Linked DNA regions of Homo sapiens. The protein of the gene in region 1 purifies or fractionates together with the protein of each later gene. This does not show direct contact. Each region holds a gene or a part of one and is shown in the gene's direction. Other genes may lie near its edges. The genes, in order: CNNM4 and KIAA0319L.

What was found.
Region 2: the proteins of CNNM4 (region 1) and KIAA0319L fractionate together in Homo sapiens (co-fractionation; one large-scale study listed by BioGRID). This does not show direct contact.

Annotation. Positions count from the first base shown.
Region 1 is NC_000002.12:96,791,647-96,795,456, forward strand, and holds part of CNNM4 (metal transporter CNNM4 precursor), read left to right. Parts: intron 1-3,810. UniProt on the Homo sapiens protein: Probable metal transporter. The interaction with the metal ion chaperone COX11 suggests that it may play a role in sensory neuron functions. May play a role in biomineralization and retinal function.
Region 2 is NC_000001.11:35,435,269-35,439,078, reverse strand, and holds part of KIAA0319L (dyslexia-associated protein KIAA0319-like protein), read left to right. Parts: intron 1-3,481; coding exon of another isoform or gene 3,482-3,597; exon of another isoform or gene 3,598-3,774; intron 3,775-3,810.

The DNA of each region.
Region 1 (3,810 bases):
CCACATTTTTCAAAGTAGTCCTTAGTCAATGAAAAATGACTGAGGAAATATAGCAAAATGTTAGTATTTGCTTGAGCCATATAAAATTGCTGATATTCAATTATATTTTACCAAAACCAGCAATTCATGTGGCTTAATCTACATATGGGGGATTCAGGATGGTTTCTATTTTCTGTTTTCTTTTTATATTTTCCTATATAAAAAATTCCAAATTTTTCATAATCAATAGTATTAATTTCTTTTTTTCTTTGAGATGGAGTCACTCGCTCTGTTGCCCAGGCTGGAGTGCAGTGGCATGATCTTGCCTCACTACAACCTCCACCTCCTGGGTTCAAGCAATTCTGCGCCTGAAATCTCAGCACTTTGGGAGGCCGAGGTGGGCTGAACACTTGAGATCAGGAGCAGGAGAGTAGCCTGGCCAACATGGTGAAACCCCATCTCTACTAAAAATACAAAAAATTAGCCGAGTGTGGTGGCAGGTGCCTGTAATCAGGCAGACTGAGGTGGGAGAATCACTGGAACCTGTGAGGTGGAGATTGCAGTGAGCTGAGATCACGCCACTGCACTCCAGCCTGGGTGACAGAGTGAGACTCCAGCTCAAAAAAAAAAAAAAAACCACACACACACAAAAATACAATTTTATTAGAATTTATACAATGAGAATCCTAAATATAAGCCCTAAATTGATCTGCTTATTTTAGATGTTAAATCAGTTAGCAATAATTTCCGAAGTATAGAAACTTCTAAATTAGTAAAATCTAAAATAATTCTTTCCATCTTCGGCCTCCCTTCCCCTTCCCCGCTCCCCTTCCCCTCACTGGTTACTTTTCTCCTCCTGCTAAATGGATGTAGAGGCACAAAGAAAGACAGGAGGGACTGGTCACGGTGGCTCACACCTGTAATCCCAGCACTCTGGGAGGCCGAGGAGGGTGGATCACCTGAGGTCAGGAGTTCGTGACCAGCCTGACCAACATGGTGAAACCCCATCTCTACTAAAAATACAAAAAATTAGCTGGGTGTGGTGGCGGGCGCCTGTAATCCCAGCTACTTGGCAGGCTGAGGCAGGAGAATCCCTTGAACCTGCTAGGTGGAGGTTGCAGTGAGCTGAGATCGCGCCACTGTACTCCAGCCTGGCGACAGAGCAAGACTACATCTCAAAAAAAAAAGAGAGGAGGTCAGGCTCACCGTCCCATGGGCCTGATAACTGGGACAGAGCTGCCCTAAAGGGAGACAGGAGTGTTGGGGGGATGGGCATGAGCTGGGTTTTGGCTGCGTTAATTTCAAGGTATTAGTGACGTCAGGCAGCACTTGGATAGAGGAATCTGGAGGGCACGGGAGAGGACAGGGCTGCAGAGATTTATTTGGGACACTTGTACACTTGTATTTAAAGTTGCTAGGCAAGGGACCAGGTGTACAGACTGAGTTCTGAGTCTCTCCAGCATTTAAGTGGTCAGGGAGAAGCAGTGACTCCTGAGGTCAGGAGCACTGGGAGGGCTGTGCCCTGGAAGCCCTGGGCAGAAAGGGCTTCCAGGGGAAAGGAGGGAGTCACCGTTGGTCAGCAGGTCATCTGAGAATAACACTCCACCATGAAAGGTCATTGGTGACCTTGACCAGAGGCTCTCTGGCCCGGGGAGGGGAAAATTCTACCAGGACAAAAAGATGTCCCCTCTGGACAGACAAATTAGAAAATAGGAAAAACAGCCCAGGGGCCCAAAGCTCACCCTGCAGAGGGTGACTGACTGGCCCCTTAGGCTGGAACCTCTGTACGGAACCCCAGTTGGCCAGCCATCAGGCAGTGCCCAAAGCTCAGCTTGCAGAGGAGGGGTGAACGTGTACATGGTGCTCAGGGCTGTACACCTACAAGGTGCCTGTCATGCAGCTGGCTGCCACCCGAGGGTGCACACACACAGCAGTGGATCCCGCCAAGGGGTCTCAGAGAGGAGGCGGGGGGCGGAGAATGGTATCAAGACCCTGCTCAGGGAATCAGCTCATTTCATCCGCAGGAGGGCTGTTTCCACTATAAGAGAGGCTGCCAGGCCGGGCGCGGTGGCTGACATCTGTAATCCCAGCACCCTGGGAGGCCAAGGCAGAATGATCACTTGAGGTCAGGAGTTCGAGACCAGCCTGGCCAACCTGGCGAAACCCCGTCTCTACTAAAAATGCAAAATTAGCTGGGTATGGTGGCGCACACCCAGCTACTCAGGAGGCTGAGGCAGGAGAATCGCTTGAACCTGGGAGGTGAAGGTTGCAGTGAGCTGAGATTGTACCACTGTACTCCAGCCTGGGCCACTCCAGCCTAGGCTACACAGTGAGAGTCTGTCTCAAAAAAAATAAAAACAGAGAGAGGCCAGCAGCCTTTCACTGTGAGGGAACCTTTCGTTGGTCAGGATTTGGTCTGAGCCTGTGGAGTAATTAGGGATGTGAATGTAGTGGAGAGGTTGTTTTCTGACTTTGGGGGTCTGAACAAGGTTCTGCTCACTGAACCTTGTCAAAGAACACACCCCCATTCCCTGGGGCTCGATCTGTGGCAGTAAAAAGCACAGAGGGCCCTTGTCCACCCTAGAGACTCTCACCAGTTTCCCTTTGTTCTCCTTAATTTTGTTTTCCCCCTTAATTTTGTCTCAGTTTTGTTTTTAAATTATAAAAGTAAAACATGCCCATCAAATATAACAGTATAGAAGGGTATATAGAGAGGCAAAATAGCCTCCTCCCCAAACTCCAAATACCCCCAAAGGTGACCACTCTTACTACTTCTGGACGCTTCCAGGGCAGTTCAAGCCCACACACGCCTTTGTTTCTGTGAAGGCAGATGGCTCCATGCATTCTGTTCCGTGACTTGCTCTTTCACTAATAGCGTATCTTGGATTTCGTTCCGCGCTTTATTCATCCACCTCTGCCGTGTTCTCCCTTGAGTAGCTGTGGCCCCTTTTGAGTCCCTGTGCCCTATTGCTATTGCTTTAGGTTGTTTCTGGTTTGGGGCTGTTAAAAAGAATGTTGCCAAGAGCCCCCTTCTCTTGTGTCTTTTGTGAAGGTTGCCTCTCCCTAGGGTGAGTTCCTAGAAGTGGACCTTCTAAGTCCAAGGTTAGGAACCCTTGATTTTGTGACATCCTGACCAACTGGCCCCCTGAAATGTACCCTTTTACCTGGCCACCAACCAGATACATGTGAGGGCCTGTTTGTCTTCCCCATCCTCCACCATAACTGGGCATTACCAGGCTTTTTAGAGGGTGCCCATCTGGAAGGGGGTACAGGTTGGGCATCCCGAATCCAAAAATCCAAAATCCCAAATGCTCCAAAATCCAAAACTTTTTGAGTACCAACATGATGCTCAAAAGAAATGCTCATTGGAGCATTTTGTAGTTCAGATTTTCAGATTTGGGATGCCCAATGGCGTGTATTCTGCAAATATTCCAAAATCCAAAAAAATCTGAAATCTGAAACACTTCTGATCCCCAGTGAGGAATAAGGGATACTCAGCCTGTCAAAGCTGCCTTGCTTTAATTCCCATCCCCATGTGGTGACATGGTTTAGCTAGATGCCCAGGCCCTTCCAGGCACTGTCTTTCTGGAGGGCACTCCTGTATGGACAGCCTCCAGCAGGCACAGAGGCCTGGGGGCGGACCCCAGGGTCCCGGCCTGGCCCGCTGCCGCCCTGCTGGAGGGCCTCACAGATCTCTTGAACTTGTTGGCTCATCTCTAGGAAGATACTGGGGTATTTTCAATCGAGTCCAGCCATGGCTTTGTCTAGCAAGACGCTAAATGTTTTTTGACCAGAACCTGTAGTGGGAAATACATATATCATAGCCCCTGG
Region 2 (3,810 bases), on another chromosome or scaffold:
ATGGGGAGCCACTGATAGCTTTTTAAGGGGATGAATGGTGGGATTTGGTTTACATTTATTATTATTTGAGACAGAGTCTCACTCTTATCACCCAGGCAGGAGTGCAGTGGTGCGATCAAGGCCCACTGCAGTCTTGACCTCCTGGGCTCAGGTGATCCTTCCACCTCAGCTTCCTAAGTAGCTGGGACCACAGGCATGCGCCACCATCCCCAGGTTTTTTTGTTGTTGTTGTTGTTGTTTTGTATTTTTGGTAGAGACGGGGTTTCATCATGTTGCCTAGGCTGTTCTTGAACTCCTGGGCTTAAGTGATCTGCCTGCCTTGGTCTCCTAAAGTGCTGGGATTATAGGTGTGAGCCATGGCACCCGGTCTTGGTTTATATTTTAAAAAGACAACTGTGTAGCTGGGCGTGGTGGTGGGTGCCTGTAATCCCAGCTACTCGAGAGGCCAAGGCAGGAGAATTGCTAGAACCTGGGGGTGTGAAGGTTTCAGTGAACTGAGATCACTCCAACCTGGGCAATAAAGCCAGACTCTGTCTCAAAAAAAAAAAAAAAAAAAAAAAAAAGATAACTGTGGCTGACAGATGCAGGGGTTGGAGGGGAAAGGCTAGCTGAAAGGAAGTTAGATAGAATGTCCTTGGGGTTGAGAGGCAGATAGATTCTAGATACATTTTTGAGGAAGACTTGATGAGGTTAGTGGTCTGCTGGCCAAGGCGTGTGGGAGAAGGGAGAAAGGAAGGATGGCTCCCAGCTTCAGCACTGAGCCTCTGTGGGTTGGGTGGTGGTAGTATCCCTGAGATGGGAGAGACTGGAGAAGAAATGGTGGAGATCAAGTGTTTGGTGCAAGACAGTTATGAATGGAGTTGAGGGAATGAGAATGAAAGATTGACAAGGCCCAAATTGTGAAAGTTTGACTATCAGCCTGCAGAGTTAAACATTTATCCTGGTGATGCTGGGAAGCAAAGTCTTGGATAAGCTGGTTTAGGAAAATCAGTCTGGTGACAACATATAATAATTGAAGGGGAGTGGCTACAAGTGTGGAGACCAGCAAGGAGATTTTTGGTCCAAGGAGGAGCTGACAGTGATTCACACAGCGTGGTGTCAGTGGGTTATAGCTAGGTCTGGCAAGGTCAGGGCTGACTTCCAACCGAGAGATGGAGAATGATAGTGCTGTTGACAGAATCAGAACCTCTGATGCAGTGACTGGGTAAGAGAAGATGAATTAAATGGAACTCAGCAGAAGAGTCAGACATGGAACTGTAGAAATAGGAATCTCCCATCTGCTGGTGAGGATCAGCACCACAAAGGGTCACATCCCTTATGGGGGAATGTTGAAGGACAAAAGAAGAGGCCTAGGGTTGAGGACCCCAAGAATGACCATCCAGGAGGGAGGAGGGGATTCATTAGGGGACAGCCGTCGGTGTTTGCTGCTGCAAAGGCCAAAGAATCAGAATTGATAGCACCAGAGAAGCTCCTGGCCCATCAGAGAGCTGCAGTAGAGTGGGGAGTGACAGTGGAAGTGAAAGCGCAGGTGATTTAGAAAGCGCAGTGAGGAGATGAAGGCCCTGAATATTTAAAAATCCTTTTAGAAGCTGAGCAGTGAAAGCTAGAGAAGCAGGATGGCAGGCAGAGGGCAAGGGCCTCCTCTTCCTCAGAGAAGGGCTCATGAACAGATCTGTGGGTGGCAATGTCGAATGCAGGTAGAGGAGTGGTGCGTTGGAGAGGTGCTTCCTGACTGAGGAGGAAGGAGGGAGAAGGGAAGAGAGGAGAGAAAGGGAGCATGGAGTTCAGATGCCTCTTCTGAGGCAGGAGGGGAGAAACGGGCGGTGATGGCCCGGAGAAGTGCCGCGCTGCAGAGGTGAGATTGGATGGGAGCCTGAGCTCAGCACATCGGACATCTTAGGGAGAGGGGAGAGCCATGGGGTGTTCCAGTGGCATCTAGGTGACCAAAACCAACAACGTGCGACCAGGTGAGGGCAGCAGGGCTGGTCTCTTGTGGGCAGTGTCTACCGAAGGGAGCTGGGAGAGCCCGCTCAGGTTCGGTGTGGGTCTGAGCAGGCCGGAAGCACTGGTTCTTGTTCTGGGCTCAGTGGGTTAGCAGGTCCAGCCTAGAGTAGAGTCACTAGGAGGACGAGGAGAATGAGATTCAAGACCATATGGTGTCAGGTATGGAACTGAAGAAGTTTAGCTGGAAGAAGGGTAAACTGAGTGGGTCCGTTGGGGGGAAAGAGGATGTGTGTGCGCGGGAGTCTGGACGGACAGTTTGCCAGGAGCCAGTTTAGGCTGAGGATGAACAGTAACTGAGGAAGGAGAGCAGTGCCACCTGGTAAGTGTAGGGCTGCCCCCCTCAGGAGGCCCCCTTTACATTCAGCAGCTATGGCTTTGTTTTCTCTTGTTGCTGTTGTTTTTTGTTGTTGTTTTTGTTTTCTATTGATTTTTTTTCTAAAACTTTCTATTGAAGTATATTAGGTTGAACCTAGGCTCCTGTCCTCACTGCTATAGCCAGAGGGGCTTTGGGAAGGAGGCAGCTGTGAACAGGTGGGTATTTCAAGGGGTGAGGCAGGGCCTTTGGAGGACCTGGGCCCTTGCCAGGGCCCTTTCCACTGTCCCCACCACACTGGAGATGTCCTGGCGGTCAGTGTTCTTCTGTGGCCCTGCTGCTCCGCTGCCCGAAGACTCAGTAGGAGAGGTTCAGTCAAGACCCAGAACTGTAACCCTGACACCAACGCGGGTGAGGAAGCTCCCTGCCCAAGCCCCAGAGCATGTGGCACAGGCACAGCTGTACATGGACAAGGTCCTTGGGCGCATGTGGTCCTGAATGGCAGGCGCATCAGGGTCTGGATGCGCTCAGCCTGGAGAGCTCGGGGCACTGCCACCCTTAAGTCAGGTGTGGCCAGGAAGGGCTGAATGGCTGGGAATCCTCTCAAGGCACTTTCAGTATGTGAGGGAGATCTGGATCCTTCTCCCCGGAGAAGGGAGAATGATTATTGGATGATGAGATTGTGGTGCTGGAGAGGGCTCTCCCCTCTCCCTAAGATGTCCACCCCTCACCTGACTGGTTACCTTTTTTAGAAAGGAGGGAGGTTAGCTCCTGGGCGTGGGCATTCCCAGGACCCAGAACACTGCTGAGGGGGTGCCACCTGTTGGCAGCTCCCACTCTAGTCCTGCTATCTCAGCCTGCTGTTTGTTTTCTCTGGAGTTTTTGCACCAGCCAGAGGGCAGCCATCTTTGCTGTTGGAACTCTTCTTATCAGACCACATTTCATGTCTGTGGCCGCTCGGCATCTATAGGGATAAGTAGTGAAGGGACTGCCATGGCTTGCAGAATCGCAGGTGTCTTCTTCGACCCCAGGTGCTTCATACGGTTCTTGCTTTGTGTGTTCTGTGATTTGGCTGCTTGGGACTGCTTCTGAGAGTCCCCATTTCAGTCAGGCTCTCCCAGCAGGAGAGACCTGTCCAAGTGTGCACCTACTCTGCCACCCTAGCATCCAGTGAAGCCACAGCAGACAAGAGCCCACAGAGCAAATGTCTACATGGACTGAAACTGCACACTCCTGCTGTGCCAGCACTCAGCGGCCTTGCTGACCTAGGGTGCAGCTAAAAGCTCATTCTCCAGAGCCTGAGTTCTTTGTGCTTTCCTGCCTACCATGTCATTCCACCCATAGAGGGAGGTGATAAAATATTCCAAATTTGAAAGGTAAAGAAAAGAGAATGTCACTGAGTGGCCTGAACCAAAGCTCATGGATACTGGAGATGAAGAACCAGCAGGAGACCCCAGGTGTGCTCTCATCCGTACTCTGTGACACCCCTTAGT